Linked DNA regions of Homo sapiens: all the other regions are linked to region 2. The links come from fine-mapping of genetic effects on gene expression. A gene starts in region 2. Each other region holds a variant in brackets. All regions are shown on one strand. Distances are between the middles of the regions. Region 1 has its middle 30 kb from the start of WSCD1. Region 2 holds the start of WSCD1 (WSC domain containing 1). Region 3 has its middle 67 kb from the start of WSCD1.

What was found.
Region 1: its variant is fine-mapped to the expression of WSCD1 in cerebellar hemisphere (GTEx, PIP above 0.99). The same link has a PIP of 0.9 or more in cerebellum.
Region 3: its variant is fine-mapped to the expression of WSCD1 in cerebellum (GTEx, PIP above 0.99). The same link has a PIP of 0.9 or more in cerebellar hemisphere.

The regions. Positions count from the first base shown.
Region 1 is chr17:6,035,183-6,046,021 of GRCh38, forward strand. No RefSeq gene overlaps it. Among named protein-coding and RNA genes, the nearest start is that of WSCD1, 30 kb to the right of the region's middle. The variant C/T (reference allele first, on the strand shown) is at 6,298.
Region 2 is chr17:6,064,935-6,075,773 of GRCh38, forward strand. It overlaps WSCD1 (WSC domain containing 1), which reads left to right and starts at 5,445. Exons shown (of 9, transcript NM_015253.2): 1 at 5,445-5,718. RefSeq lists an enhancer at 4,681-5,512.
Region 3 is chr17:6,131,708-6,142,546 of GRCh38, forward strand. No RefSeq gene overlaps it. Among named protein-coding and RNA genes, the nearest start is that of WSCD1, 67 kb to the left of the region's middle. RefSeq lists enhancers at 3,744-4,245, 7,436-7,990. The variant C/T (reference allele first, on the strand shown) is at 6,233.

The DNA of each region.
Region 1 (10,839 bases), 30 kb before region 2:
TGGTGGCTCCTACCTCTCCTTCATGATCAAGTCCATGCCTCTCACCTGGCCCTCAGCGCCTTTCACAGGTGGGGCCATCCTTCGGTTACATCTGCATCTCCCACTGCACCTGAGTGGATCCTGGCCCTCAAGTCAATGTAACCATCCTCTACTCCAGGAATATGGGTGCTTTCCCCCACTCCCACCTCACGCGAGCCTTCTGGAATGCCCCTGTGCCACCTCGGCCCTACTCTCCATCTCTTTACATGAAAAGATGACATTTGTTATTGCATTTTCTGGTTACTAAAATATTGTGAGCATATTGCCACTGTTAGGAAGACATTGAAAAGTATAGGAAGACAGTGAAGCTCTGCTGAAAGCCCATCTTGCAGAGACAGTCCCTGTGTAGAATTTGCTGTGGCTATTTCTCAGCCACATGCTCTGAAAATCCACTGCTGACAGCAGCCTCCAGCAGAGCTGGGAAAAATCAGGCCCCAGACAGGACACCAGGGTCGCTGTTTTGTGCCTCCTACAGATGTACGGGGCACCACATTACCTGCTCACAAAAGGTGTCTAACACACTGTAAGAAAGTGTATGCACCTCAGGGCTCTGAAAAAGGCAGCTCTATCTCAGTAGAGCAGTGTTGGGATTGTTAATGGCTGGAGAGGTGGCAGGTGGTGCAGAAGGCTGGGCTCAGGGCGCTTGTGGTGTGTGTGTCAGCCCCTGACTTCTCCCACCCTGCAGCTCCAGGCCCCACCATCCCCACTCTGTAGGTTCTCTTCTCTCTGCCCCAACTCTGGCAGCAAGCCAGGCAGCATGCCTTTAGTTCTGTCCAACAAACACTCTTCATGCTCAGCTCTGCGTTAGGAGACACTGGGGACACAGAGCAAGCCAATTATCCCTGTCCTGGAGGAGCTCACAGCCTGGTGGGTGAGGAGCAGCTGTCTCCCCAGGCTCTGATCCTCCACCAGGAGCTTCTGTAAGCTCTGAGGGTAAGCTCTGGACCACTGCATTTCCAAGCAGCCTCTGCCGCCTCCCGGCTCTCACCAGGTGCTTCCACTTTCCAGGCCCCTCACCGGGACAGCATCTTGCTCTGAACTCGGTTTGCGTGGCTGGCACTGCCAACCCTTCTTAGCACTAGTGGTACCTCCAAGCCAGAGAGTTGCAGCAGACCCTGTGAGTGGCAGACAAGCCTTCATGGGGAACTGTGGTCACAATCAAGAGGCAGAAGAGACAGGCTCCCCTCCATCCTCCCATCTTTGTGGCTCCAGGAACACAGAGAATTCCTCCAACATCTCTGCCCAGTTGTTTAAGGGCTCATGGCAGGGAGGTTAGACGTGTCAAAACAAGCCTACACAAAGTAACAAGCATTACAAAGAGAAACACAGGTGTCAAAGGAGTAGCTTTAACTTTGGAAAGGCAAAGAAAGTTCTTACAGATGGGGTAACATTCAAGCTGGGTTTTGAAGGAAGAGAAAGAATTTTACAAGTGACGAAGGAGAGAAGGGCATGTTCAGATGTTTATTCCAGAAAGATTCCCCCATGCTACTTAGCTCGAAGGAGGGACTGGACGAAGGTTCTGGGGAAGCAGGGAAACCAGCAAGGTGGCTGATATGACCCTCCAGCTGGAGATACACTGAAGCCAGCAGAGGATGGGCTTTGAAGGTGAGGGAGGCAGCAGACACTGGCTGGGTGGCTGGTAGCTCCTGGGCAAACGCTGACCTGGAGATCCTGCAGGCGGCCAGGACTCAACGCAGAGCCAGGGGGCCCGGGACTCCTGCTCTGAGCCCCACTGTGGTGGGTGGGGATATCTAGGCATTTGAAGGAATCTCAGCTGGTGGGAGGGCACCTTGTAAGTGATCTTAAGCAATGCAGTGCATCCTTTATTAAGAGAAACGGTGACACCTCTGCTGCTTGCTTTGGGTTTGTTTATCTGCATCCTGTCACCTCCCCCAAATGGGATATAACACAGAACTGCAATTATTTTGAAAACCCTAAATTGGCTTTTTTTTTGGCTAGGAAAATCTCACTTGATACAATTAATTCCTATCCTAGAGGAGCAGTTAGATATCTGATAGGAAGAGGAGTTGAGGGCGAGGTGGCTGCTCCCCTCAGTTCCTCTACTGTAATCCAGTTACTCCAACATTGATCAGGTGCTGCCATGCTTCGAGCAGGCGGCTGCAGAGCCCCACCCCCGGTGAGGACCCCCTCTGGGCCCTATTTGAGCTCACAGTCTAACTGGGAAACAGAAATAAGCTAATAAACCAATAACTAGTTCTGGTACGAAGTCGATTGAGCAGAGAGCCAGGGAATTTGAGGGAGAACTTTGAAGGATGGCTTCCTGGGGAAGGTAAGAGTAGATAGGGCTGGGCCTTGGGACAGGCCAGGCCCACGCAGAGTGACTGGGGAAAGGGACGGCCTGATCAAGGTTCAGAGGTGTGAAAGGAGGGAGTCTGTTCAGGAAACATGGGTAGATGGGTGTTGCATGGTGTAACTCAGGGTTCCCCAACCCCGAGGCCACAGACTGGTAGTTGTCTGTGGCCTGTTAGGAAGCAGGCTGCACCACTGGAGGTGAGTGGTGGGTAAGTGAGCAAAGCTTCCTCTGTCTTTTTTGTTTGTTTGTTTGCTTTTGTTGTTTTTGGAGGCTGAGTCTCGCTCTATTCCCCAGGCTGGAGTGCAGTGGCACGATCTCAGCTCACTGCAACCTCCGCCTCCTGAGTTCAAGCGATTCTCCAGCCTCAGCCTCCCAAGTAGCTGGGATTACAGGCACAGGCAACCAAGCCTGGCTAATTTTTGCTTTTTTTTTCATAGAGATGGGGTTTCGCCATGTTGGCCAGGCTGGTCTCGAACTCCTGACCTCTGGTGATCCACCTGCCTTGGCCTCCCAGAGTGCTGAGATTACACGCAGGAGCCACTGCACCTGGCCTGAAGGTTCAGATTTTAAAGAGCATGGCTAGAGAAGGCCCCGGTGAGAAAGTGACCAAGTGCACACCTACCTGAAGGAAGTGAGAAGGTGAGTTGTGTGGGTACCAGGCAAGGGGAACAATAGATGCAGGGACTTAAGCGGGCACATGCCAGAATGTCTAGGAAGAGCTGGCGGGCCAGTGTGGCCAGAGCGGGGAGGGCAAAGGGACAAGAAAGACAGCTCAGGGGCTCAAGGTGGGGCAGATTCCACCAGCCACTGCAGATCACTGTCAGGATCTGCCTTTTGCTCTGACTTACTCCGATGGGAGGGTTTTCTGCAGAAGAGTGACACAATCTGACTTACTTTTAAAAAGAGTCACTCTGGGCCGGGCGTGGTGGCTCATGCCTGTAATCCTAGCACTCTGGGAGGCTGAGGCGGGTGGATCACTTGAGGTCAGGAGTTCGAGACCAGCCTGGCCAACATGGTGAAACTCTGTGTCTACTAAAAATACAAAAATTAGCCGGGCATGGTGGTGGGTGCTTATAACCTTAGCTACTCAGGAGGCTGAGGCAGAATTGAACCCGGGAGGCAGAGGTTCCAGTGAGCCAAGGTCACACCACTGCACTCCAGCCTGGGCAACAGAGCAAGACCCTGTCTCAAAAAAAAAAAAAAAGTCACTCTGGTCACTATGAAAAACAGACTGCAGAGGTAAAAACAAGTTCAGAGGTGACTGCAATCATCCAGGGGCAAAGTCATGGTGGCTCCGCTTGGACCAGGTGTGGGGGCAGAGGGGGTGGTGAGAAGCGATCAGATCCTGGATAGAGTTTGAAAGTAGAGGTGAATAAATTTGCTGATGGCCCAGATATGAGATGAAAGACAAAGAGGAGTGAAGGATGACACCAAGCTCTTTGGTCTGAGCATCTGGAAAATGGAACGGCCATGCAGGGAGATAAGAATATCCGTGGCAAGGATCTGGCTTGGAGGCAAAGTGTAATGGGGACAGATGATGTGTAAGATGCTTGTTAGTCATACCGCTTCTCCCTACTTCATTGCTGTTACTTCTTCTGCTACCAGGTCATAACTCTCAGTTTTACCCTGTTTACCAAAACCCCCAATATGCTGTTCCCTTTGCACAAAATGTCCTTCTCATCCCATGCCCCCTCCAGCAAAGTCCTCAGTGAGGTGGCAGGTCCCCCTCCAGCGACCCCAGCCAGGTGAATGTATCATCTCTGACAGCCCCTTATTCCTTTTGAACAGGCTCTGTCTTATTGCTTTATAAGTTCTCTCTGGGCCTATTTGTCTCTTGAGACACTGAGCTCTTTGAGGGAGCCGTGCCTAATTTACATCTGGCATTAGGGCTGTTCCGTAGGGTGTGGAGGTTAAGAATAAGGACCACAGAGTCAAACAGAGCTATGTTGGAACCCCAGGTCTGCTACTTATTAATAAGCCACGGTCCTTAAGCAATTTAGTCAACTACTCCGAGCCTCAGTTTCACTAGCTGTAGAATGTCTTAGTCTATTTTGTGCTGCCATAACAGAAATACTTGAGACTGGGTAAGTTATGAAGAACGGAAATATTAATATATTCTCCCACAGTTCTGGGGGCTGAGAAGTCCAAGATCAAGGCCGTAGCATCTGGTGTGGGCCTTCTGACTGTGCCCTCACATGGTGGAAGGTGGAGGAGCAGGAGGGAATGAGCTCACTCCTGCAGGCCCTTTTTATAGCAGCATTAATCCATTCATGAGGGTGGAGCCCTCATGAACTGAACACCTCCCCAAACACTCCACCTCCTAACACCATTGCACTGGGGATTAAGTTTCCAACACATAGATTTTGGGGGACACATTCAGATGATAGCATGGATGATAATAGTCGCTTTGTCCTAGGATTATTTTGAGAAGTGTATAAAGTGCTTGGTGCTGGGCTTGGCATGTATTAATCCCTCATTAAATGCTCACATAACTTAATAATAAAAATAATAACACGTTTTTTTTTTTTTTTGAGACTGAGTCTTGCTTTATTGCCCAGGCTGGAGTGCAGTGGTAGAATCTCGGCTCACTGCAACCTCCATCTCCCCGGTTCAAGCAATTCTCATGTCTCAGCCTCCTGAGTAGCTGGGATTACAGGTGCCCACCCCTACACCAGGCTAATTTTTTTCTTTTTAGTAGAGATGGGGTTTCATCATGTTGGCCAGACTGGTCTCGAACTCCTGACCTCAAGAGATCTGCCTATCTCAGCCTCCCAAAGTGCTGGGATTACAGGTGTGAGCCACCGCACCCAGCCAATAATAAGTGTTCTTTATGAAGATTTGTGAGGGGCCAGTTTGGAGGGTTGGATGGAGGGCCAGGCAGGCCAGTGAGAAGGGAAGCTGAGCAATTGTCCAGGTGAGAATGGTGTGGCCAGGGCTAAGACAGGGGCGGGCAGATGACGTAAGGGCTGCTCTTGGGGTTGAGTAAGCAGGACTTGGTGACATTGGTCATCGGTGGTCGAGGAAGGGAGAAATTTTAGACAACCCAGGCTTGAGCTCTTTCTGAGCCAGCTTTGAAATTTTAAACCGCTGTGTTTTCTCACTTGGTCAAAGTCACTCAGCGCTGAGACTTCCCCCACTGCGGGCTCCAGGAGGCCTGACCTTTCAGCAGTATTTACAGTATCGACCAGCTAATTTTAGACACTAACACCAGCAGGATAATAGGGTAAAAGGCGACCTCACTGGAGCTGTTCTAGCCGGTGCGCTTCCCAAGATAGTGTCATTCATGGATGAAGCCGGGGTTCACTGGATGCCGACTTCGGGCCCAGCCTGGGCATCGGTGGTGTGTGTATAAATAACTTATCCTTGTTAAGTAAGTAAAGAGAAGGCGCCTTTTCCAAGGGGGTGGCCCCCAGCTTTCTGGTTCAGGCTGTTTTCTGGCTGGACAGTGTGCCTTCCCCACACCCCTTTAGCACCTTCCTGTTTCCCAGTGTGCTCTGACCTTCACCTCAGCAGCCCTTCCTCCAAGGCTCTTCTAAGGCTGGGCTCCCACCTTGGCAGGGTCTTCCTGGAGCAGAAGAGAGCCAGAGGTGGGACCACAGCATCCCTGGGGTGGCATTCCAGCAGTCACCAGGCCAGTTATTAGCTGTGGCCCTTAAGCAATTTGCTCAACTACTCCGAGCCTCAATTTCCCTGGCTGTAAAATGGCGATTGTCTTAGTGGAGCAAGTGGGAGAGACACTGGTGTAAGGGCAAGAGCTGGCTCCTTCCTTTTCCGAGAAGGGTTAACCCTCTAAGTAGCTCCTTGGAGCGCAGCAACACATGCTGTCCCCTTGACACCACCTCCAGGTCGAATGCCTCTGTCTCTGTGTTTGCTGGAAACCGTCCAGCACCGTCTGGCCCCGCTGTGAGCAGCCTGTCGAGCTGCATATGGCGGCTCCCCCATGG[C/T]GCTGCCACCGGCTTCTGTGTCGGGAACAGGCTGGAGCCTCCCGTCTGGGCTCGGACACCTTGTTCCTCTCCTCTACTATCCAAGGACTCATTCACCTTAAAGCAGTTGGGAAAAGAATGTCCTCTATGCAGGCTCTAAACCTCAAGGGGTGAAGGGCTGGCATGGCCATTTTTTTCTGGGGACAGGTTAATTCATGGAGAAACCCCCAGGGTTTTATTTCTCCCTGGACAACAACAAGATGAAGTCAGATAAACCACCTGTTCGTTTTGCATTGCTGTAAAGGAATACCTAAGGCTGGGTAATTTACAAAAAAAAAAAAAAAGAAAGAAAGAAAAGAAAAAAAGGCTTATTTTTGGCTCATGGTTCTACAGACTGAGCAAGAGGCATAGTGCTGGCATCTGCTTCTGGTGAGGCCTCAGGAAGCTTAAGATCGTCGTGGAAGGTAGAGCGGAGGAGGTGTGTCACATGGCCAGGGAAGGAGCAAGAGAGGGGGTAGGGAGGTCCCAGACTTTTTTCTTCTTTTGAGATGGAGTCTCACTCTGTCGCCCAGGCTGGAGTGCAATGGCACAATCTCAGCTCACTGCAACCTCCACCTCCCAGGTTCAAGCGACTCTCCTGCCTCAGCCTCCCAAGTAATCGGGATTACAGGTGCCTGCCACCATGCCCAGCTAATTTTTGTATTTTTAGTAGAGATGGGGTTTCACCATGTTGGCCAGGCTGGTCTTGAACTCCTGGCCTCTGGTGATCCACCTGCCTTGACCTCCCAAAGTGCTGGGATTTACAGGCGTGAGCTACTGCGCCCGGCCTCCCAGACTCTTTTTAACCGTCAGGTCTCTCGGTAAGTGATGAGCTTGGGAAGGGCACCAAGCCGTTCATGAGGGATCTGCCCCCATAACCCAAATGGCTCCCGTAAGGCCCCCCCTCCAACACTGGGGATCACATTTCAACCTGAGATTTACAGGGGACAAATATCCAAACCATATCCTCACCATTCCCAGATCTTGGCTTTGCCATTTATGTTCTCTCCTTCACCCTTCCCTGTAGGCGGTGGCTTTTAGTGTGAACCCTGAGAAGCCAGAGGGTGTAAGGACACCAGGAAGAAAGACAGGGTGGAAGAGCGCGGAGTGTTATCTATCAAGGCTGGGCTCATGGGCTCTCCTCTGTGAGGAGCACGGATGATCAAGGCAGGCATGGAAAAGCTGAGCACAGCGGAGCAGGGTTAGCAGGAGGCACTTCTGCTGGCAGGGTGGGCCAGCTGCTGGTGGCATTCTCATTATTAGCCACAACGACCCTAAACAACGCTCACATGCACTTAGGAGCACTTTGCAGCTTATAATGAATTTCTGTGGTCATTTCTTCATTGGAAACTTGCAAGAGGCACAGCAAGGAATTAATTAGTTAAAGCATTCATTTATTCAGTTATAGAGCCCTTATTGGATGCATAACGATGTGTTAGACTGTTAACTTACATCATCAGCCCCTTTACAAAGAGGAAACTGGAGCCCAAGGAGGTTAAAAAATCTCACCCTCAGTCTGGAAAGCTGGGATGGGCTTGAACTAACTACTCACCATTTATCTGTGCTTGGTGCCCAGGAAGCTCAGCTGCAGAGTTGAATCTGGCAGGTCCCTACTCTGAAGAGTCCACAGTTTCTGCTTCCCCTGGGTTCTGTGGGTGGAGCAGCTTAGAGAAGACCCAGGAGACGAAACTGGTCATCCATAGCAAGAAGACATGGACTTCCCAGATGATATTCACTAGGGGCAAAAGTAGGCAATGGTGGTGGGCAACTTGGGGGAATATAAGTTGTCTTTGCTTTGGGAGAGATTTCTAGACTCTTTCTTGGAGGCTTTCATTACTGATTGGGGAACAGTTTCTAGCACAAAAAGATTTAGTTCCAAGATATAATAAAACCACATTTAAAAATTCAGTGAACTTTGGAGCATCTAAAAGCTGAAGGAAAAGAGAACTTTCTGATAAAGTAACAATAATCCTGCTCAGAAAGCAGTTGCCATGGTTACGTACAAGTCTCTGGGGGTGTTTTTTATTTGGCAAGAGATGGTAAATGTTTTCCCAGGGTAAGTCCAACTGGCCACACTGGCCTGAGCGATGTGAGGGAGCCCTGGGGTCCAAGCCAAATACTCCTGTGGCAACTGGAACTGCTGCCCAAAGGATGGGCATAGCCAGGCAGAACCTGACACTCAGGAAGCCTTTCCTCTGCTCATTGCTCAAGGGAGCAGGGCAAATTGAGCCCCACATTCCAACAATAATCATTCAGTGACTATGAGGATGGCAGTCACAACCAGCTCCACTGACTGGGTGCTGGGCAGGTGCTAAGCTAAATGCTGTATGTGTCTTAGTTCAGGTGACCTTGACAATAGCCTCGTGAAGGAGGTATTATTCCCATGTTACAAATGAGTCAACCGAGTCTCGGAGAAGCTAAGACACTTGCTAGATATCACAGGAAATGGTGAAGCTGAAATTCCAATGCAGGTCACCTGGACACCAAAGTCCAGAGGATGGGGTATAAACCCTGTTTTTCTTTTTTCTTTTTTTTTTTTTCTTTTTCTTTTTTTCAGATGGAGTCTCATTCTGTCCCCAGGCTGGAGTGCAGTGGCACAATCTGGGCCCACTGCAACCTCTGCCTCTCGGGTTCAAGTGATTCTCCTGTCTCAGCCTCCCGAGTAGCTGGGATTACAGGCACCCGTCACCACCCCTGGCTAATTTTTATATTTTTAGTAGAGACAGGGTTTCACCATGTTGGCCAGGATGGTCTCAATCTCCTGACCTCGTGATCTGCCCATCTTGGCCTCCTGTTTATAACTAAAAGTACAGAACTTTGAGGCAGCCCTTCCTCTGCCTCATCTCTTCCCAGTAGCATCTTACTAGTGTCCTTCTCCTAAGGTGAGGCTAAGCATTATTCGCCAGCCAGTGATATCTCTGTCCCTCTCCTGGTTCACCTGGGCACTTCAAGATGCCTCGCCAAATGCCCGGCTTGTATCTCAGTACTCCATTCCAAGTATTTTCCGCCAATGAGCCACCTGGAAAAATACGATCTCAGTTGGCAGCAGAGTGAGGATGTGAGCTCAGGCTCCTTTTGACTCTCCTGTTTGAGGGACCACCAGATCTGCCTCTGGGGTGGTGGCCCTGGGAGCACCAACACAGAATGCCAGTCCCTGCCTTCAAGGTGCTTACAGTCTGCAGGGGGAAATACACAGGCAGTTACAAGGCCCTCATGGTTTCTCTTGTGATACAGGGAGTCATGGGAAGCTATGGGACCTAGAGGCCATGAATCAGCTTTACCTTGCAGGCAAGAAAAGTGTTACAAAGAGTGTAGTAGCCTTCGGTTTGGGAAAAGAAAAGTGCCGAAAAGAATTAATACAGTAATACAGCAAGCTTGAAGCTTCTATCTTTAGAAGAGCTTGCTTGCAAGGTAGGCCCTTGGCTGGAGTCATAGAACTTGGCTTTTGAAACATCCTTTAACTGCTAAAGTTGCTTTGCTTTGCCTGGACTCTTTGCACAATGTGTTTTATGTATTTTCCTTATGGGAGTATGAAATGTTGGTAGTTGCTAGGCAAAGAGTGCCTATGTGATCAACTCCCAATTACAAACAAAACAAAACAAAAAACGCACCCTAAACTCCGAGTCTCAAACAGGCTTTCCCAGGCTGAAACTTTACATACATGTTGCTGCAATTTTTGCTGCTGGAGAAAAAAGCATGCTCAGCATGTCCCTTCCTCAGTGTGTCATGGGAGGGAGAGGAAGCCTGTGCTTGGGTTTCTCCAGAGTCCGTCTGATGTCTTTTGCCTGCATAGATCTTGTTGTGTTTTCTTTTACTGCAATAAACTACAGCCGTGAAGTCAATTATGCTGAGACCCGTGATTTCTTCTAGTGACCCAGTGATCATGTGGGTGGTCTTAGGCCCCCTAAAATAGAAAAGATGAATGAGATTTTAATGGGAAGAACAGGAAGAGAGGGGATTCCAGGTATAGGAAACAGCATATGCAAACTCATAGAAGCATGAAAGCGTGTGGTTTGGGCAAGGAATGGTGTGGCCTGCAGCTAACTAAAGGGAGGTGCTGACGAACTTGAAAAAGTTCAGAGGAACTGGGCTGTGAGGTGCGTGAGTGCTAGGCCAAGGGATCTAGATTTTATCTTATGAGCAATGGGAAACATTGGGTATACTTAAAGAGAGAAATAACAGTCAGGGGGATATTACTGTTACAACAATTACTCTAGTAGCCAGTGTGTGGGGCTAATCGTGAGTGAGGAAACAGGAGGCCAGAAGGCAGGCCTTGGAGGAGGCCTGGCAGGGATGCAGATGTAACCTGTCTGAGCCAAGTGCTCCTTAGAGCCTCCTTGCCAACCCTCCTCCTGTTCCATCCTTCCCATTGTCCAAGAACCCTAGACCCTTGCTTGGCTCATTCTGATAGGGCTGGCTGGACTGTGCAGACTGTTGCTACTATCCCAGGGCCTTGAAGAAAACTAGCCAAGCCCAGTTGCATTTATGGCCACTCCTGAGCAATGCTCATGATGGTCTATAGGG
Region 2 (10,839 bases):
CCATGCCTAGGAAGTCTAGTTGCCTCTAGACCAGACCAGTGATCCGGGAGGCTCCTCCCTTCCCAGTCAGGTACAGATTACCTATTCCACTTCTCCCTGCCGCCCTCCCACCCCTGACACCCCTGTGTCTGCAGGCACAGCTCAGCAGGGGGTACAATTACCATCTGTGTCACTGGCATCTTTACAGAGGCATATTTAAGTCGCTGCAGCACTCACAGGAGAAAGCAAGTAAATACACAGCCCAGCAAAGTGCCGAACCCAGCCTCAGATCTGCCTGCATGGAGCAGGCATCGAATACTTCTCAGCACTATGCGGGGAAAAAGCAAAGCAAAGAAAGAAGAAACTGCATCTCCACTTTGGAGATGTTGCCAAAGTTTCTCTCCATCTCTGAATGATGCTTTTTCAGATGAGGCAGTGTCCAGAGGAGCAAAAGGCAACCTTCACAGGTGAGACAGTCAAGCCCGTGTCACCTTGTGGGCCAACATCTTGGTGGAGCATACAGCCAAGCTGCATGGGTAAAGGAGATTACTGAGGTGCCTCTGGGTGTCGATGGAGCACCTGCTTCCTCATCCCACCACGGTCCCTGGCAGGGGCACGCGGTGCAGTGAGCCATCCGCACTCATCCTCTGGGTCTCCCTGGTGGCCAGTAGAATCCAATGGACTGGATACAGGGATCAGTCTGTGACCAGAGCAAGGGGAAGCAGCCTCTTGAATTCTTGGGAAGAAACATGACGACTGTGGGAAGCCTTCTTGGGTTTATTAAAAATATGTCATGCTAGGCACATCATGTTTTTAAAAACACAATTATTTATTTAATAAATATTTAGTAAGTATGCCTATGTACCAAGAATTCAACTTGGCACCAAGGATAAAGTTCTGAATGTGATAGTAAGTTCCCGGGCCATATTAGAGCTTAAATTCTAGCAGTGGGGGCTGTGAGGGTTGGGAAGGAGACAACAGATCATAAACCAACAAACACACAAAGAGATGATAGGGCAATGTTCCATGAAGACTGGAAACTGGACAGTGAGGTGGATGCTTTAGCCAGAATGACAGGGCAGGCTCTGGGGCGGTGGCATGTGGAGGAAGAGAACGTATCACAAGCTTGGTGGCTCAGTAGAACATTGCACATGTGGCATTTCTGGATTTTAGCAAAGCTTTGGGGAAAACCCCTTCTTGTAATATTTACTAAAATGTGTTATGTGCGTATTCCATGGCAAATGTTGTTTTGCTTCACACTCAACAGACATTTTATTTGGTCCTTACAAGCACTCCCATAAAGGAGGCATTTTCTCTGATTTGCAGATGACAGTGTTGAGGCCCAGAGAGATTGTGACTTGGTCAAGGCGAGAGAGATATGAGCCCCACGCCCGGCCCTCACCCCCACGTGGGCTTGTCACCCCCATGCCTATGACTAGTCAGGCTGCCTTTGTCAACATGACATAGAAGTGTAGGATGGCTGATGACTCATAACTGGTTGAATGACCATTTCCACGGCTGATGATGACTAGATGACCACCGTGAAGGGAGCTCATCATAGTGGTGGCTCAAGCGTGGTCCACAGCCCTGCCTTGTCCACTGGTGCCAGTGGCCTGAATGGGGGTTCAGTGGCTAGTCGGGGTTCAGTGGCCAGTCACAGTTCAGCCTCCTCTCCAACCACCTCTGACCTTGCACCAGCTAGTGCAAAGTCACTGGCAGTTTCTGTGACAGCCTGTGTGTTTCACACTTCCCTGCCTTTGCAAAGGATGCCCCCCACCCTTGTCTGGAATGGCCCCTGCACCTGGTGACCCAGATGATGCCCACTTCTCCTCTAAAAGCCAGCTTACATGTCACCTCCTCCAGGAAGCCTTCCCTGAATTCCTCCACACTGAGGTTGCGAGTCATTTAGGTTCCAATGCTCGCTCTATCTATCTCTCTATCTATCTCTCTATCTATCTATCTATCTATCTATCATCACAGCTAGTTGCCATCCCAGCAGCCATCTACTAACATAGAAACAATTTTGATCAAGTGGGGATGCGCTCTGAGATGACTGGCCTATCCCCAGAGGATGAATTATAATTAGCCAAACCCATTCCTCCTTGGCCAGGTATTGGCTGAGGGGTACTCACAGGGTTCACTTCTGGCCAATGGGCCTTGCCAGAAGGAGGATCTGGCAAAAGTTTCCTTATCCAGTGAAAAAAGAAACTTGTGGGAAGAAGTGTCCCTTTCTTTCTTGCCTTAGGGTATTGTCATTTGGGGAAGTCACGAACAGCGCTTCAGTTGTCATTTTGCAGTCATGAGGGGGCGGTCCAGGGAGCACAGAGAGGCCACCACAGATTCTGACATCATTGAGTGACTGAATCACCCAACCTTGGAACTGCCTACCTCCAGGCGTCTTGCTGTCTGAGATCATAAACCCTTTGCTTGACACCACTTTTACTTTGCTATTTGTTACTTGAGGCTGCAGGCATCCTGACTGATACAGCAGAGCTCTCTCTTTGTGGTATGTTTTCACTTTGGTCTGTTTTCTCGTCCAGTTCTTCACACTGGAAACTCCTGCAGGGGACCGGTTCTTTTTTATCAAAGACTCTCCAGTGTTCAACACAAAATCTAACACACAATGGGTGCCTTGCTTAGTAAATACATGAAAAGATGGGTGGCTGGAAGGAAGGAAGAATAAGCTATCAGATGACGTGAAGTAAGGAGGTGATGTAAATACCTAGGATCCAATAGTTGAGGTCTGCAAAGAGAGGAGCGGATGACTCAAGAGCGAAACACAGAGAGATGGGATTGATGTGACATCAGACCTGTCTGATTCTTAGTCCCAGACTCCTGGGGGGTGGGGGGATACATTTCTCAGCAGTAAATGGACATATGATGGCAGCATTGTGGGACCAATTGCTTTTGGGACAGGGATGGTATACAAGTTACTATGAAACAGTCCCAACTATGTGGAGAGAAGAGCTGAGGGACAAGGAGTTGGACTGTGATTAGGAGTGACTCTGTTATCAGTCCTCCCTATCACTTCTTACTGGTCACCATCACTAGAAAGAAGGGCTTTGTCCTGACACTGAAATACTCCTGGCCGTGTTGACTCCCAAGCCCTTCTCAATTACTTCCTGGGTTCTTTCATGCGCCTCCTTCCTCAACCTCCCTCCCTAGAGTCAGTAGTTGACTCTAGCTTCTACCCACACAGGGGCTGTATGGTGTTCCCCTGGTGGGGTGCTTTGCAGGGCAGGTGCAGCGTGACATCGAGCACAGATGGCATGGATACCCAGCAGCCTTTTGCTTTTTCTTCTTGAGTCACCTCCTTCCCTGGTGGCAGCCACATCAACTCTTCTGCTTGATTATTCTGTACCAAGTGTCTGCTGCTGCAGATGGACACTTCTGAATAGCAGCTGCCGGGAAATGTCTGGCTTCCCAGAGGAGCTGGGCTTGAATTCCCCTGGGCTCAACTGGCTGTGAGCCTTTTGTGATCACCCACCTGAAAGCCTCATCTGTCAAATGGGCACATGAAGGCATCTATAGACTTATCAGTTTTAAGTGGGACAATGGGTACGAGAGGGCCAGGGCTGGCTTCATGGGTATGAGATCTGTGAAAGGCTCTGAATTCTGTGCTCAGAAGGGACCCGTACTGGTTTAATATCCTCCTTTTATCTCTCGAAATTCTTGATAGTGTTTTAAAAGGGGGCTCCATTTTTATTTTAGGCCCTTCAAATTATGTAGCTGGTCATGGAGAGGGCTTTGCAAACCAAACAGCATTGCGAGACTGCACAGTGGGTTGCTGTTATAAATCGTAACGACACACACATTCACATTCTGTAAAGGATATATATGTGAAGGGGGCTTTTCTGCAAGGTTGGGACTCTGAGGCAGCACAGAATTCGTCTCTCACTTACTGTATCCTCTTCCTGGGCTTAAGGATATTAAATCCAGGTGCCCCAAGACCTTCAGAGCATTCTGCCTTCATGCGGATGGTGCAGACTCTGTTCTAATTCTGCACTTGGCCAGACATAGCTATGCAAACTGCAGCGAGTCTCTTCCCGCTCTGGGCGCCACCTGACTGACCCGCGTAAGGAGGGACTGTGACTGGTCCCCAGGCAAACGCTTTCCCTGCCACCTGCACCTGTTGCAAGCCAGCTCCTCGGAGCCAGGCCAAGCAGCTCTGCCCCTAGCGGGAGTCGGAGGCATGAAACTCCCTTTTAGGAAGACGGAGTAAGAGGCACCACCACCTGCTCCTGCTGCCTCTGCTGTCCTCAGCTTCTGGGAGCATCTTAGCAGCCAGCTCCGGGTGAGGACAGGGTCCACCGGTGCACATGGCAGAGCAGGGCAGATGCTGTGACTTGGCGGCTTTGGGGGAACAGGGTGGGGCTCCTCCCTGGGAAAAATCTTTAGGTTTGGATCCAGCCTTTATTTAAAGAGGGGGATTGTGTATAGACTTGTGTGACTGTTCAGCCTCTTTCCACCTCGGTGCGTGTGTGTGTGTGTGTGTGTGTGTGTGTGTGTGTGTGTGAGAGAGAGAGAGAGAGAGAGAGCCTGTGGGTCAATGCCCAGTATGCCCCTCTGAGAGTGTGTCTGTTAGTAGACACCAGTGTGTGACATTGCTTCTGTGGGCAACTATGTCAAGGCGTGGGTTTGTCACTGTGTGCGGTGTGGAGCAGTATGATAAGCCGGCGGCCGACCCCCGAGTGTGTAGACGCGGGAGCTGGTGTCAGGGTATTTGTAGGGCTGCAATTCTGTGTAGGTCTGTCTCAGATTGTGTGAGAGTGTCTGTGTTCCAGCAGGTGCTTGTTTCTGAGTGTGAATGTGTGTGAAGCTGTGACCGTCTGTCTCTAGCTCTGCATGGGACGGTGATCCGGTGTGTGTGTGTGTGTGTGTGTGTGTGCGTGCGTGTGTGGTGTGTGTGTGTATTAGAGTGCACTCTAAACTGTGTGGCTGTGTGTGTACGTGTGCGTGCCTGTCACAGTGGCCCAGTCTGCTTCTGGGTGAGTGGGGCAGAGCCCAGAGAGTGTGTGTGTGAGTGTGGGTGTCGGTGTCTCTGGGAAGCAGTGATTCGGGATGTGTGTGTCAGGCAGTGTGCGGCTGTCGCTGTGAGTCTGCATGGGAGAGTGGCGGCGTGCTCTCCTCTGCGCGGCAGTGCCCCGTGTGTTTGTGGGTCTGTGTCTGGGTGTGAGCGTCATGGTGCGTGTGTTAGAGCCCGTGGGGCCCCGGTGAAAGGCTGTGGCTCTGGGTGACTGGTGTGTGTGTGTGTGTGTGTGTGTATCAGAGTGGGTGGCGGCGTCTCTGCTCGGCAGTGGCGCGTGTGGCCCGCCCCGCGCGCGTGTTCTCGCGGGCCGGGGCAGGGCGTGGGCCCCCTCCGGCGGAGCCGCGACCCCTCCCCCGGGCGGCGGGAGGTGCGCACCGGCGCCTCTAGGACCCGGCGGCGGCCGGCCGCTGTCCCCGGGCCGCGCGAGTGAGCATGTGCAGAGCCCGGCGCCCGCTCGCCCGCCCGCTGCCCGCCCCGGCTCCGCGCCCGCCCGCCCGCCCCGCCGTTCAGCCCGGACGCCAGCAGCCCCGGGGAGCCAGGCGGCGGCGCCCTGTGCCCGGGCGCGTGGGTCCGCTTGCCGCGGGCGGCCGGAGACGTGCGGGCGCCGGGGCTTCTGGGCTCCGGGCACTGCGGGGGGCTGCGGGCTCGGCGCCCGGGGAAGGCGGGCCATGGGCGCGGGTGCGGGCGCCCCAGCCGGCCGCGATCGCGGGGTGAGTCCTGTCTCTCGGCGCTCCAGCCGGACCCCCGCGCGGGCTGCGAGCAGGGTGTTCCCCTTGCCGCGGGCAAACAAGTTTGTGCAGACGCGGTTGGGAGCGCGGCGGGGCTGCACCTGCTCCGGCTGCAGGGCGGGCTTGCCGGGGGCACCTTCCCGGGGGCCCGGGGCGGCTCGGCCGGGGCAGGGGAGAGTGAGCGGGTGCGTGCAGGGGTTGTGGGGGGGCGGGGGCGGCGCTCGGCGCGGCCGGGATGGGGTGGGGGTGCGCGAGGCGCCGCACGAGCCGCGTCCCCCTCCGGAGTCCTGAGAGCCCGTCCGTCACCCGGGAGGGCGCTGCGGTTGGTCCCGGGGAGGGGGCGAGGGCAGGGTGTGGGGTGCGCACAGCTTCCCTCCTAGGCGGCGACGTTTACCCAGAAGCAGCTCCCTCTCGTTCCGCTACCAAGAGAGGCTTCCGGTCAGCGGAGGGTTTGCTCCGTCTCTTGGTGAACTTGAACAGAGGCAGAGGCAAAAGCAAAACGTATGTATTTTGTCCAGAAAATTACCTAGTGTAGAGCTTTGCGTCTTCGTAGGTGTGGACGGAGACTCACGACTGAAGGTTGCTAAATTGCGTTTTTCTTGGCTACTCAGGAGCGTACGTACCTGGCTGGGTCCCCTGCCTCCGGGTAACCTCGCTGGTGGTTTTCCTGAGCATTTGTGCGCCTGGGATGATGCCTGCTCTGCTGATCGGGAATGCGGGTGGGGAAGGGGACCGCTCTTCCTTCCGCTGAGCAGTGGGAAGGCTCATATAGGAGTTCTAGCCTCATAGCCCTGCACTGGGATCCAGCTGCTCCCCACACTGGCCCTGCCCCTGCAGCTCCCAAGATGGACAGATGCAGGACTCCGCTGTACTTTTCTAACATGAGATACCCGCATCCCTCTTGTTGCTGGAACAGCATGCTTAGGTTTATGGAGGCACTTGGTTTATCCCACTTTGGCATCAGGAGTGGGGGCCTTTCTTTTTTCCTCTGATTTGCCTAGGTTGTCAGGCACAGAAAGTGAGGGTGGTGGGGAGTGAAAGTTACAGGAGATATAAAGCTGGCTTGCCCTGCGCTGTTTGCAATCACCCACTCCTGGTGGCTGCAGGTGCTGGGGAGAGAGCTAGGGGAGGTTTCCTTGGGCTATGGGAGAATGAGGTTTGTCTCTCTCAATCATGCCCCCACCCCCACACACTTAGATTGGCCCTCAGGAGATCCTCCGGGAAGGGGCCTCAACCGGCTGCCAGAGCTCAGGGTTTCTAGGAGGAAGAGCAGGAGCTCTCCCAGGCATGGGATCTGAAGGAGGCTTGGCGGTGGTTGGGCTGGTGGCTGAGCCTGACTGCCTCATCTTCTCCGCCAGAAGGCTCTCACCTGTGGCTGCATCCTCCAGGCCTCAGCAGGGCCATTTCCACAGCTCCTCTGTAAAAATGCCTTCTTCTGGGGTGAGGGGATCCCTCTCTTCAGTGGGCATTGTGCCCTATGGGGTACTGCCCTGTGGCCTGTGGCATGTCTGGTTGGAAGTGAAGAGAAGCTGGGATAAGGCAGAAGGCCAGACTCCTGTCTCTTCCTCCTGTCTTCCTAACCGAGCAGAAGTGGATATTCAGTGCCACTAGTGGGTCTGCTGCTGAAGCTTGAGCCTCCAACCTGATCAGTTTGGCCAGAGCACTGGGGAATGAGTCACAGAGCTGGTTCCTTATGGCATCAGCCTGAGCAGGCGACTCAGAGCCTCTGAATCCAGAGCCTCCAGGCCCTGATGGAACCCCTCCGAGCAGGGCCTCTAGGGAAGTGGTGTTTCTCATTATAGAAGCTCCAAGCTTGTACTCCCATCCAGCTCAGACCCCCATCAGCCTTGGTGAGACCAGCTCCCTGACTCTTTCTCTGGAGGTACAATGAGGTCAAGGCCAAGGACTTTGGGGCAGCTCAGTGTTTAGACCTTCAGGGCCTTAGGCCTTAAAATGCAGGTGATAATCATATACACTAGCAGGGCCAGAGCTGGGCCCTAACATCCAGGGCTGCTCATCTGGGGAATGAGGGAATGAATGTGGCTTTCCGCTCACCACCTTCTCCCTGGGCCTCCTGGTCTGGCCTTCACATTCTTCCTTTAATCTCTCCTCATCATGGCTTTGACAATCGTGCTGACATACGGCCTGAAAAATTATCGGAAGTGTGCCACTTGGAGAATGTGGTCAGGGAGGAACTCTGCATATGCCCTGCCTCCTGGTGTGGATGTGAGAAGTGGATGGAAGAATGGGCTGGATTCATTTCATCAGCTATGAAATACAGTGCACCTGCTGGTAGCTGTTAAGGCCCCTCCCCTTCACTTCGCTTCCCTTCCTTTGCTGCCGGAAGCCCCTGGAGATGTGAGCTCCCTTCTAGAGAGTGGCTCCCTTGACATGAGGGGGTCGAGAGTATTCTGAGGACAAGGATGTGCAGCAGGCTGTCTTGGCCTCTCTCCCATAGCCCGAGTGCCCAGTGGCAGCATCAAGTTGGGCAGGTCTGACTTTGGTTGGGCACTCCACTCACTTGTCCACCTGTATCCAACTCACTCCGTGGGGTTTCAACACCTGTTTACCTTCCAGATTCTGGGATGGGCTTGAGACGACCCTTAAGCTTTCAGCACCAGGTGGAAGAAACACATGAATAAGTAAACAAAATAAGATTCTATAAAAGAGATAGCCCAGGCCAGGCGTGGTGGCTCACACCTGTAATTCTGGTGTTTTGGAAGCCAAGGTGGGCAGATCACCTGAGTCCAGGAGTTTGAGACCAGCCTGGCAAACATGGCAAAACCCCATCTCTACTAAAAATACAAAAATTAGCTGGGCATGGTGGTGTGTGCCTGTAATCCCAGCTACTAGGGAGGCTGAGGCAGGAAAATCGCTTGAACCCAGGAGGCGGAGGTTGCGGTGAGCCAAGATCATGCCACTACATTCTAGCTTGGGCGACAGAGCGAGACTCCTTCTTGAAAAATAAATAAAAATAAAAGAGATAACCCAGAGATAGGCTGGAAAAGGTTGCGACTGGCTGTTTCAAAAGTGAGAAAGGCTCCAAATCAGGCACCAGGAAAGGAAAAATGCCGGCCCCGGCGCTGGTGCTGTGTCTTTCTGTGTGGACCCAGCCTCCAGCATGGTGCTTGGAAGGATCTCTGTCCTTGGTATTGCACACATGAAGACCATGTGATATGGCTGGTGATGATATGCTCTGGAATCAGAGCGACTTAGCAATAGCCGTTTGTATTTGTTCAAGTTAATTGGCCTTCTCTGTCTCAGATTCTGCATCTGTATGATGGGGACGATAATGATTTTGGCCTCACAGATTTGTGGGAAGATCACTCATTCATTTGTTCATCTGATCATTCATCCAATGCACTTGACAGTTGGTGAAAGTACCTGGAACTCTAATATGGTATGTTAAATTTTTTATTTATATGAACCCCAACAGTGGGTTAATTGAAGAGGTTTCCCTCCTTTGTGTGGAATGGAGTTTTGACCTATTATGTTTTATACCCTTTTAGCAACATATTAAAATTTTGAATCTTTTTTCAAGCTCTGAAGTTCAAACTCTCAAGAGATTTGCCTCATCAAAGACAGGGATCCCACCCCATTTGCATTTCCCAGACCTTGTTCCCCCAAAGGGCCCAACAGATTTTTGTTTAGTGGGTCTCTTGCTTTTTCTCAGTCTCCAAGACCCAGAGTTGTTAGGCCTGTCAGTAATGGCAGCATGGCCCTGAGCATCGAAGGATGTCCAGTCCAGCAGGCACTTATTTTCAGGGGCATTCCCTGTGCCCCACCCAGAGGTGGGCAGAGGCACTGACTGTGCCTTTGACAGGCCTACAGGCTGGAAGGAGAGGTAGGGACATTAGCAGGGAACCCTGACTCAAGACCACACACTACCCAGGCACAGTTTGTAGCAGCAGCCTTGCTGCTTAGTGCCTAGCACTGAGGAGTGGTTCTGCTCCAGAGATCAGGGAGGCTTCATGGAAGAGGAGGCATGGGAGCTGAACCTTGATGGCCTGAAGCATTTCAGAGCCGTGAGATGGGGCACAAGCATCCCTGGCTGGTGGAAGGGCATGCGTGAGGGTGCTTGACGCCTCTCTCGCTAACCAGGTGATGCTCTGGTGGGATACAGGGCTTGCTTGTCAATCCCTGGGAAGCCATTACAGGCTGTGGCATCATTAGCTCCTCATATTAGAAAGATCACTTTCTTAGATGGAAAGGGGACAGTCTTTTGGAGAGGGGATGGGGTACAGAAGCCAGGCGCTATGCCTGAGCGGGGTAGGGGCAGGGGCAAGGGGAAAGTCACAGGAGGGGAATCCAGGAGCTGTGAGCCCAGCTGGAGGCTCCTGCATGTACTCTGCCCGGGTCCTGAAGCTGAGACCCCCTGGCTGCCAGTCACTGAGGCTGAGGCTTCGAGCTTCTAGGACCCAGATGCCCATCACCTTGTCTAGAGAGCAACGTTCTGGGCCCTATTCTTGTCGCTGGGGCTCCTGCCCTGCAAAGAGCAGGCAGCTCCAAGTCCCAAGAGGTTTGCAGCCCTTGCTGCAGCTGCCACAGTAGCTGAGATCCTTCTGGGGATGTCTGGTGTCATTTTCCCTTCAGCTGCCTCTGCCTGTTCTCTCTGACCGGGGGTCACGGGGAGGTTGAGTCATCTGACTGAACCCCAGTGGCCACTGGCTGCACCTGGGCCAGCTCCGAGTTCTATCTTGCAGCCCCCAGCCCCAGGGACTGCCTCCTCTCCTCTCCCTGCTGCCACCCCTCAGTCTCTGGACCCCTAGCCTGGCTGAGAAGTGGCCACCTGACCAGCCCAAGCCACCCATCATTCAGGCTGGGCAGTTGCTGCTCCCTCGGTCCCAGATGGCAACAAAGTAATAGACAAAAGCTCAGGTTGTCTGAATATCCAGGTGCTCTGGGCTCCTGCTCCCTCCCTGAGACTTCCAGAAGCCCATTTGTTCTGTTACTCTCTTCTCATGCTTGACAGGGAACTCAGAATCTCCCTCCCCAGGCCCTGCTCTTCTGTAGGGTGACCCCAGGACAGGGCAGTGGGTGTGCACCTTTGTCCAGCCCTGGCGTGCCCCCTCTACCCCCAATAAGGCCAAGCCCCAGGCAGGG
Region 3 (10,839 bases), 67 kb after region 2:
CAGTAACCAAGGGCAGTGGAGCCATTTCTGGCACTGTCAAGTTCTGATCAAGGAAGTTGCCTGGACCTGGTGCAGGCTCCTGCCTGTCTGAGTGCTGAGCAGGGCTTATCCCAACCTCAGCTCCCCAGCTAATGGCAGAGCCTTCTGCCAGCCAGGACCCCTCACTCGTTCTCATTCTCTCTCTCTCTCTCTGTCTCTCTTTCAGTGGGCTGAGCCTTTTTACCCTGCTCAGGGTCAGGCCGAGGCCTGAGGCCAAGAAGAGGGTGTTTTATACACAGGAAGGGAGCAAATTCTCAGCTCTGAGAGCTGCATTGGCCAGTGGACGCCATAAGCCAACTGTTCTATGCAGATTTTCAGTCATTGAAGGACAGCAGATGGAAATAAGCCAGAGCCACCTTCAACTACTTTCACTCGTTTAAAAAGCCACATTCTGCTCTGTGTCACTGCTATTTTTCTGGGTCCCATTTTGACACCTCTTGCTTCTCTGAATCCCATAAATCACTGAGAAAGTCCTTCTTAGGGTCACCAGTCCTTCGATGTGGAGAATGAAGCAATTCCAAAGGGACCCTGCCTGGGGTCTGGGGAACTCGGGCTCTACAACTGACCCTACCTCTAACTGGCCATGCATCTTTGGAAGACTCTTATCATTTTCCCTGAGAACTATCACTCAAACAGGGCAGTAGAGCTGACATCTGGGTTTGACTTCATGACCTTGTCTCCTTGGCCAGAGCTCACGGGACTGCTGGGGCCCCTGACCAGAGCTGGGCAATTGGATTCTCCTTTTGGTCACTTGGGCTTGGGCCTGGGAGACCCCTGTCTGTCTGCTAGCTGCGCAAAATGAAGACACAGGAATGTGGGGCCCATGGAGCATAGATGTGGGCACGCAGACGATCGCTGCAAAGAGACCAATGAATGGCATCATTGTGCTGAGAGATGGAGATCTGAGAAGAAAATAACCCAGAGAGAGGCTGAAATAGGATCTGTTCAAGTGAATATTAAAATGGTAACCAATACCCAAGACAAAAATTGTGCACCTAATCAAATCAGTTCTTTCATTTGTCTGCATTGCCTTCTTCTCCCTTTTCCTGCTAATTTTTTACCTGTATGAATGCATGATGTAATAGATAGAACCTTTTCTTTTTTATTTAACATTATATCATGAATATTTTTCCATTTTTCTGTAGTCTTTTTTTTTTTTTTTTTTTTTTGAGGCAGGGTCTTGCTTTGCCACCCAGGCTGGAGTGCAGTGGTGCGATCTTGGCTCGCTGCAACCTCCACCTTCTGGGCTCAGGTGATCCTCTTTCTCAGCCTCCCGACTAGCTGGGACTGCAGGCGTGTGCCAACACTCCCAGCTAATTTTTTTTTTTGAGATGGAATCTTGCTTTGTCGCCCAGGCTGGAGTGCAGTGGCCGGATCTTGGCTCATTGCAACCTCCGCCTCCCAGGTTCAAGTGATTCTCTTGCTTCGGTCTCCCAAGTAGCTGGGATTATAGGCATGGACTGCCATGCCCAGCTAATTTTCATATTTTTAGTAGAGATGGGGTTTCACCATGTCGGCCAGGCTGGTCTCAAACTCCCGACCACAGGTGACCTGCCCACCTCGGCCTCCCAAAGTGCTGGGATTACAGGCGTGAGCCACTGCCCCTAGCCAAATTTTGGCATTTTTAGTACAGACCATGTTGGCCAGGCTAGTCTCAAACTCCTGACCTCAACTGATCCTCCCACCTCAGCCTCCCAAAGTGCTGGTGTTACAGGTGTGAGCCACTGTGCCCGGCCTATAGTTTTTGTATCTTATTTTTCCCCAATTCTTCTCCTTTTCCTACTTTCCCGTTCAGCCCCCTGATATAGTAACCAGTGACAGCCTGGTAGTATCCATTCACACCATTATCACACCATTCACATATAAATATATAAAAGCGTATGTGTATATATCTATATTTCTGTCTGTGTCTATATGTCTATAGATATAGATATAAAAATTTGGGGGCCATCATTTGTTTTTGCAAAAATGTAATAAAATGATTTTTCTGTGTTTTCTATTCAATTTGCCCTTAAATGATGCAAAACGTTCATTCCTTTGAAGGCAAATCTAATATTCTCTAGTTGGGAATCTCCAGAATGAGGTGTATACACTGTACCGGCACAAGGAAAACATATGAAAAATTTTATCTCTATTTATTTTGATCTCTTCTCTTTAAAATTTCTATTTTCTGTTTGTTTATCCTACACTTAAGGTATTCACACATGCAAATAAATATCCATCTTTTGGAAGTGCATGCTATCATCAAATGAGCAATCAGAAATGCTTAGAGACCACTAGTCTACAGAATCAGGGAACAACTTATTCACACATTTCCCTTTTGATGGATATCCAGGCTGTTCTTAGACGCTGCAGCAGGTACCACTACAAACTATGCTTTGACAAGCATTACTCTACACAGATATTTACATACTAGTGCTTTTTTATTTTTATTTATTTTATTTTTTTTGAGATGGAGTCTCGCTCTGTCGCCCAGGCTGGAGTGCAGTGGCGTGATCTCCACTCACTGCAACCTCCGCCTCCTGGATTCAAGCGATTCTCCTGCCTAGGCCTCCTGAGTAGCTGGGATTACAGGCACCCGCCAGCATGCCTGGCTAATTTCTGTATTTTTAGTAGAGACGGGGTTTCACCATATCAGGCTGGTCTCGAACTCCTGGCCTCGTGATCTGTCTGCCTTGGCCTCCCAAAGTGCTGGGATTGCAGACATGAGCCACCATGTCCGGCCGTGCTTTTTGTTCTATAGGACAGATTCCCAGAAGTACAATTCCTGATTCAAAGGGTTTGTCTAGTTTTAATTTTAACTGATATGGGTGGTCTGCTCTCCACATTGTCTGTAGCAATTCATGTCCCCGCCACCAGCAATGTATGAAACACTTATTTCCTGCATCTGTAAAGATTTTAAGAGTTATTACTCTTTTCAACTTTTGCCAATCTGATCAGAGGGGTGAGAAATGGCGTTCAGGCCACCTTCATGTATAAGCAAAGGCATCGGATCAGACAACCTCTAGGATTGTTCTAGCTCAAGTGTCCATATTTCTCAAATTATTTTTTTTCATAACTTATCTGTTAGCAGGTGTGTGCTTAGCCCCCATTCACTGACTGTTTGCAAATCCCAGAGACATCTTTGAAAAAATTGCCAGAAACCAACACATCAAGAACTGGAAAGAAAGAAAGTTGAATAGAGTCCAGAAAATCATCTTGCCAATACTGTTTAGCTTGTAAAAACCATCTAAGCCAAATCCCTGCGATTTCATCCAGAACAAATAATAAAAAAGCAGTGTGTAATATTTCTAAGATGAGCATATTCATAGTAAATATTTTAAGATCCATGGCTGCACAAAATGCATTTTCCTTGGAGGTTCACTTTTCAAATGGCTTCGTATTAAAAGTGCCATTTCAACAAATATTCATGGGGAAATTCATCGATGTGTTTTACCATTTATAGCTAAAATTTCAAAGGACTTAGGAAAAAAAGGTATGATGCATATCCTACCCTCTTCGGAGAAGTGGTGAAAAATACGTGCTATGCTTTGGTTTTCTCTGACTGTAAAACTCCCAGGCAAGTATCTACACTTTTCATTCCCACTCTTCTCTGGCTATTCCTGGGGTGGATGGCAGCCTGGTCAGAGGACAATCAGCAAGGACTAAGGGAGGAAGGGGAAGTGAGAGGTTAGGAAAGCCTAGGCGCCAAGCCTCTCCAAAGTCTCCGGAGCTCTTCCAACAGCTACCATCTGGTGAGCATTTAATGCACACACAGCAGCTTGACAGAAACACTCTATATTCTCTCACTGCAACCTCACTATCACCCTGTGAAGTAGTTATTATTATTATTGAGATGGAGTTTCGCTCTTGTAATCCAGGCTGGAGTGCAATGGTACAATCTCAGCTCACTGCAACCTCCACCTCCCAGGTTCAAGCGATTCTCCTGCCTCAGCCTCCTGAATAGCTGGGATTACACGCACCCCACTACCATGCCCAGCTACATTTTTTTGTATGTTTAGTAGAGACAGGGTTTCACCATGTTGGACAGGCTGGTCTCGAACTCCTGAACTCAGGTGATCCACCCGCCTTGGCCTACCAAAGTGCTGGGATTACAGGCATGAACCACCGCGCCTGGCCAATAGTTACCATTATTATCCTGTTTTGCAGATAAGAAAATGGGGCCTCAGAAAAGTCAAGCGATTTGTCCCTGAGGTCACACAACTAGTTAACAGGTAGAAAGGGGATGCAGACTCAGGACTATCTAGCTCCAACTTGCTATATTATTAGTCCCTCTGTGCCTCAGTTTCCCTTCTATAGCTTCCCCAGATCTCAAGGAGCCCACTGGGGCTGTAGAGATCGAAGGAAGTTTGGTATATGGTGCTAAATGCTTTCTTCATCTCCCCGGCCGCTTGGTCTCCGGTAAGCACGATTTGGCTGCCTGCTCTGGACATGAGGCATCCCACGGCCCCTGTGACATCATCCTTCTTGGCCCCTTTGCCTCCGGCAGGAAGCAAACCCCCACAGACAAAGAATTGAAAATCTGGTCACTTATTCCAGCCAATATTTCTCAGTCTTAGGTAGGCATATTCATTTTTATAATGGCAAGTTTTACCCTCGGTAATGATCAGATCCAATCCTTCTCTTGTTTGAGTTGCTGAAACCACTCACCATGGCCCAGGAGAATAAAACCCACAGGCTCCACTTGGCTTGGCACTCAAAGCCCTCTGCAACCTGCCCACATAACCATCATTTTGCATGGATGCAGTCTTGCATTGATGCTTCAGCCACTCCACATGGTACCTCTTCCACCTGCCTAGTATGTCTTTCTTCCCCTTCTCTGACTATTCAAATCTTAAATATCGTTCAAGGTCCAACTTGAATGAATCTGCCTCCTCCAGGGAGCATTCTCTGCTCTCCCAGGCTGAATGAATGGGCTTCTCCTCTGGAATCCCCACAGTTCCATTTCCACCATTCGGCTTCTAACCATCACTGGCATTTTTTCATATCTGCTTTTGCAACTGGCCTGTGAGCTCCTGTGGGGCAGTGGCAATGTTATTTACATCTGTTTCTACAGCACCAACTCATTATTTGGCTCAAAGTAATAATGACAGGCCAGGTGCAGTGGCTCACACCTGTAATCCCAGCACTTTGGGAGGCCAAGGCAGGCAGATCGATCACTTGAGGTCAGAAGTTTGTGACCAGCCTGGCCAACATGGTGAAATCCTGTCTCTACTAAAAATACAAAAAAAATTAGCCAGGTGTGGTGGCACACACCTGTAATCCCAGCTACTTGGGAGACTGAAGCAGGAGAATTGCTTGAATCCGGGCAGTGGAGGTTGCAGTGAGCTGAGATCGTGCTTTTGCACCCCAGAGTGGGCGACAGAGAGAGACTCCATCTCAAAAAAAAAAAAAAAAAAAAAAAAAAAAAAGGAATAGTGGCAATGACAACATCAATGGTAATAGGGTAATAGTTGCTATATTTATGGGGGGGTTAAAACATGACTTTGTTTAATCCTCAGACAATCTTATGAGGCAGGTACTATATTTACTCCTATTTAACAGGTAAGGAAAGGGGATTCAGAGAGGCCACGTGGAAATGGTGAAGCTGGGATTTGAGCCCAGGCTGCCTTGTTCCTCAGGTAACCACTCTGACCCACTGGCTTCTAAAGGTGCTCAGTAAATGTTTGTTGAATTAAAAAGCAAATGCATTCATGAACAAATGAGTAATAAGGAAAAAAAAGTCAGGCAACAGAGAAAAATCATCCACTCCATTGATGAAAGCAAGGCATTTCCTAGAACTCAAGCAATGATAGTGAGCATTCTCTTCCATCATCCAATCATTGCCCTCCCCTTGTTGGGGAAATCTCATGAACACATTTCACCAATGGGTGTCATTCCAAACCTACTCCTGAGGGATATGGAGGAGAATGTCTCATCCTTTTTAGTCCAGGACAATGCTTTGACTAACGTTCAGGAGGACAGGACCTTAGAGCTGTGCCCAGGCCAACAGGGATGAGTGGCTTGGGCTCATTATACTCCCAACATGATCTTCCTGGGACAAATATTGGTTCTAAGGCTGCTGCCCAGTATCAGAGAGCTGTACAGGCTGGAAATGTTTGGGGAGCAGAAGAAAGCCAGGTGCAATGTAGGAAACAGGAGAAAGGGCAGATGGTGAGCAGGCCACGTCCGTTTGGAGGCCAGGCTGCAGCTG[C/T]GGGAACCACAGGTGCTGGCAGAACTGAGGTTGCTGGTGCAGAAGGGAGGGGCCGCATCACCTGGGGCTTGGCCAGGGCCAACATGGAGACAGGGACTTGGCCCACCTGCCTGCTGGTGGTCACCTGTCTTGCTGGTGCTCAGAAGGAGGGGGCAAGCCCTGGAGCTTTCCCTGTCCTCCCTCCTCTGCACTTGCCCCACACAGGGAGAATTCTGGAGATAACACAGATACTCAGTGGCAGCTGAGTCATTCATGCACATATACATGTGCACAGCACATATAAACACACTTTCACACGTACATACGCACACATGCATACATGTACGTACACATGTGCAAACATAAACATGCATACACATGCTTCTGGTCTCACACATAAACACACACTTATACACGTGTGAACACACTTTCTCACACACGCACACAAACACATACGCTCATATGTACACACATTCACACATATACTCAATCACACATGCACACACACCCTTTTGGTCTCACACATAAACGCATACACACACATACCAGGCTCAGAAAATTTGTCAGGCTTCCAAGCACTTCAAAGCACAAGTCAATTGATGGATCTTGTTTCTGGAAAGAAATCAGCATGTCCTAAAGGCCTGGGAGCTGGATTCTTCCTTCTGAGATCTGAGAGCCGACATTAGCTCCTCAATCTCCATGTACATCCTTAATGGGTTTCTGGCCTTGTACACAATAGGAAAGTGGGCTTTGGGGCCAGGTGTCAGTCAGGGGCCAGAGAACAGAATTGCATGGCCAAAAGGAACACAAAGAAAGGAAAAAGGCCTTTCATGTGGAGGATTTAATTTCCAGTTAGGAAGATTGAAATAATTTTATACAGTGGTTTTGAAAACACATGAAAGAGTTTTCCTTTCTGAATTTGAGAGGCAGCTCTGGAGACTGTCACTGCCTCCTGGGTGCCCGAGAATCTGGTTCTCTTTCCAGATTTGCTGTGAACCAGTGCAGTCTCTGCCAGAACCTCAAGGGACAGCATGCCAGACGTTCCATTCAATTCAACTGAGTCCATCCATCCATTCATCCATCCAACTAACCATTCTTTGGACACCCAGCCTTCAACATTCATTCATTTCAACACCCAGCCTTCATCATTCATTCATGTAGTTCAGATCTCCTATCACCTGCTACGCACCTGCCTTTGGCCTGGCCTTGGGGTCCAGGTCCCTTGAAAGGACTTCCAGCTGTCCTCTTGATTATGGAAAGGATGGGATGCTGGTTACAGGGACTTATTCTTTTCTAATTCAAATGCAAAACAGAGGATAAACCCTCTCAGGTGTGAAACTCCCTTGGCTCCAGAACAATGCAGCAGTTAGTCCTGGGCCTGGCCCATGCCAGGTTCCCAGGAAAGCCCTGCTGATTCAGGATAACTGCTACCACCTGTTTCAATGCCCTTGAAGCTCTCCACACTTTTTATCTTTGAAAGTATTTCATTTAGGTTTCATAATGGAAGCAAGGCTGAATGATTATGTAACGGTGCTTTCTGCGACAAGTTTATGAGTATATTTTGAAGGCAGCAAACGTATGCCTATTAAGCATGGGGAGAATTATCAGTGAATGTTTTTAAATGACCAATAAAAATGAAATTATCATTGCTCATTGTTTTTTATGGATCATAATGTGTTTTTCTCTTATGGAAATATCCAAAAACTCCCCTCTTAGTCACCGGCCGCTAATTACATAGTTAGCACACAGTAATCCATGTAAGTGGGTTCTCGCCTGTCGTAATTCGTCTTCATAAATGTAATTGGCCCAATGAAACAGACCACAAAATAATTCTGCAGAGAGGAGATGGATTCAATAAAAACTGATTTTACTTTTCTTTTTCCAAAACTACAAACTTGGAATAGGAGTTTTTAAGAACATATAACTGTTTTTCCCCAGATTGCCACTCCTACCTCAATTTGTTTGTTATTCAACTATTTATTGATTTATTGAGGACCTGCTCTATTCAAATCATTGGCTCAATACTGGGGTTAAGTCAAAACTTGAAAGAAATTCCCGGCTGCAGGGAACTGGCCATCAAGTGAGGAAGTCTCCAAGCAGCAGGCAGAAACCATGGTGATGCAAGGTGGGTAGTAGTACATGCTCCAGAAGAGATTTGGAGAAAGGGCTAAAGGTGTTCAGAGGCAAAGTGGTTGCTTCCTCCTGGAAAATCAGGAAAGGCTTCATGGAAGAAGTGGTATTTGAGCTGAACTTTGAATGATGAAGGAAGGTGGAGCTAAGGCAACGGAGGTATGTTTGGTTAGATTAACCTGACAGTGATTATAGTGGAGTGCCGGCAGGTGAAAGGTAAGGGGAGATGGAGTGGAAAGGTAGGTGGATGGTTGTTATAGATGGAGAAGCACATTTTATACTTTTCAGCTCAAAGCTGTGCCCCCTCCCCTCTGCATATGCAATAAATAAATATTTATTAATATTAATATTATATTTAATATTTATCAATAGCAATATTATAAATATTATATAATAATATATTATATTAATAAATATTATATGTAATATTTTATATGAATTATACAAAATTAAAAATATGTAAATAAGAATAAAATATGTAAATATTACATAAATATAAATATTTACATAAACTATAAAATTATTTTATATATTTTTATGTAATTTTATATTATTTTATATTTTAAATTATATATATTAAAAATAATATAAAATTACATAAATATATAAAATAATATATCAATGATATGAATAATATGAAAATATATAAATATAAATATTTGCATTAATATATAAATATTATATATGTAGAATATTATATAGAGAGACTAATCCAATATAATATATATTGGATATAACTGGACACAATCAATACAGCATACCTACTGCTTGCCAGGTCCTGTGCCGGGGCTGGCTGGGTAGGAGACTTAGATGATTTAACACAAAGCCTACCCTCAGAAACTCAGAAGGGAGGTGGAAATGATGATGCGGTCAATACTGGCTTGAGCCTGTATCTCCATTTATTATTGTGAGATGGGGCGGTGGGGAGTGTCACTGTTCAAATGGGAGTGTCACTCTTCAAATATGGCAGTTTGTCCCAGACGAGCTCACTCTCCATATTCCATATTACAGCAGGCATTGTTAGTGTGAGGCTCTAGTTGCTTCCAAAGCAAAATATTTTTGGACCATTTACTGCCAAACGCTTCTTTTCTCTAGCTCAGTCGCCAACATTTTCCTCCTTGAAAATTTGAATGAGCCTCGAAAAGACACCGAGAAGAAATTCAGGGAGATAGGAGGAAAATGCAAATAAGAATTACAAGACAGAATTCAAGAGGATTGGGACTTTCAGGGAGGACATGATTGACAGTGTCACAGGCTACAGATGATCAAAGTAAGAGAAGGTCCCGTAAGCGTCCATTGGATTTAGCCTGGAAGAAATCACTGATGACCGGGTGAGAGCCAGGGAGCAGAGGTCAGAAGGCAGTAGGGTGAGGAGGGAGCTGGCCTGGGGTGGCTGGAGTTGCATAGGTGGTGCACGGATCTAGTCAACCTCCTCCACCCACACCTCCGCTTAGCTTGTGTGGTCTCTCCTCTCATCAGCAGACCTAATAGCACTCAGGAAATTATGTCTTTCTGCATGATTACAGAGTACATTATGTGCTACTGTGACACTTTTGCATTGCAGGATGTTTGTAGTGCCTTGGGATGACTCTACTGTGGTGGCTCTTGCCCTTTGTTTCGTGGGATTAAAACCCCGACTCAGTCACCTAGATGTAGCACGGATTCTCCCCCTTCTGTCTCCACCTCCAGCTCCTGCTTATCATCTCACTTATCCGTTTCCTCCTCTTTACCCCTATGGTTTCTTAGTGATAGACTGAATTTTTGTTTCCAACTCTTCACTACTTTGTAATAGAATTTTACTTGTACGCCGTTTCCATGGCCTCATGATCTATACAGTATACTTCCCCACTTCTTTACTTTTGAGTTGAAAATACGACTTGTTTGGGCTGACAATATGACTTGTTTGGTTCAATGAGATGTTAGTGAATGTGATGTAATCAGAGGCTTGAAATGTTCTGGTGCAATTTTTTTTTTCTTTCTGCACTGCAATGACCCACCGTGAAAAGTTCAGGTGCCAGGTAGATGCTGCCACCTCAGACTGCACCCCAAAAGAAACATGTAAAATGGACCTGAAGCTATCCTGTATCCTAGAGCCATGTCCAGTCAACCTGTAGCCTGAAGCAAAGCCACCCAGCTGAGACCAGTCTAGGTCAGCCATACTGTAATCAGCCTGCAAACCCATGATTATGAAAATAAATACTATTTTAAGCCACTGAATTTGGGGTTGGTTTGTTATGCAGCATTAGCATGATATCAGTACTGATCCTGACTTTGACCTAAGCACTCATGCTTGCTAGTTCAAATTCTCTACTCCATTCCTTTAAGCCCATCTTCCAGAGAGACTGTTAGACAACCTCAATCATCATTATAAACAAGGAAGACTGCCCTTTCAGGATTTTTCAATATTTCTTCCAGAATGTTTATTCCTTCATTTATTCATTTTTTTCAAACATTCAACAAATGACTACTTGTACTAAGCCTTAGGAAGGGCACTCGGG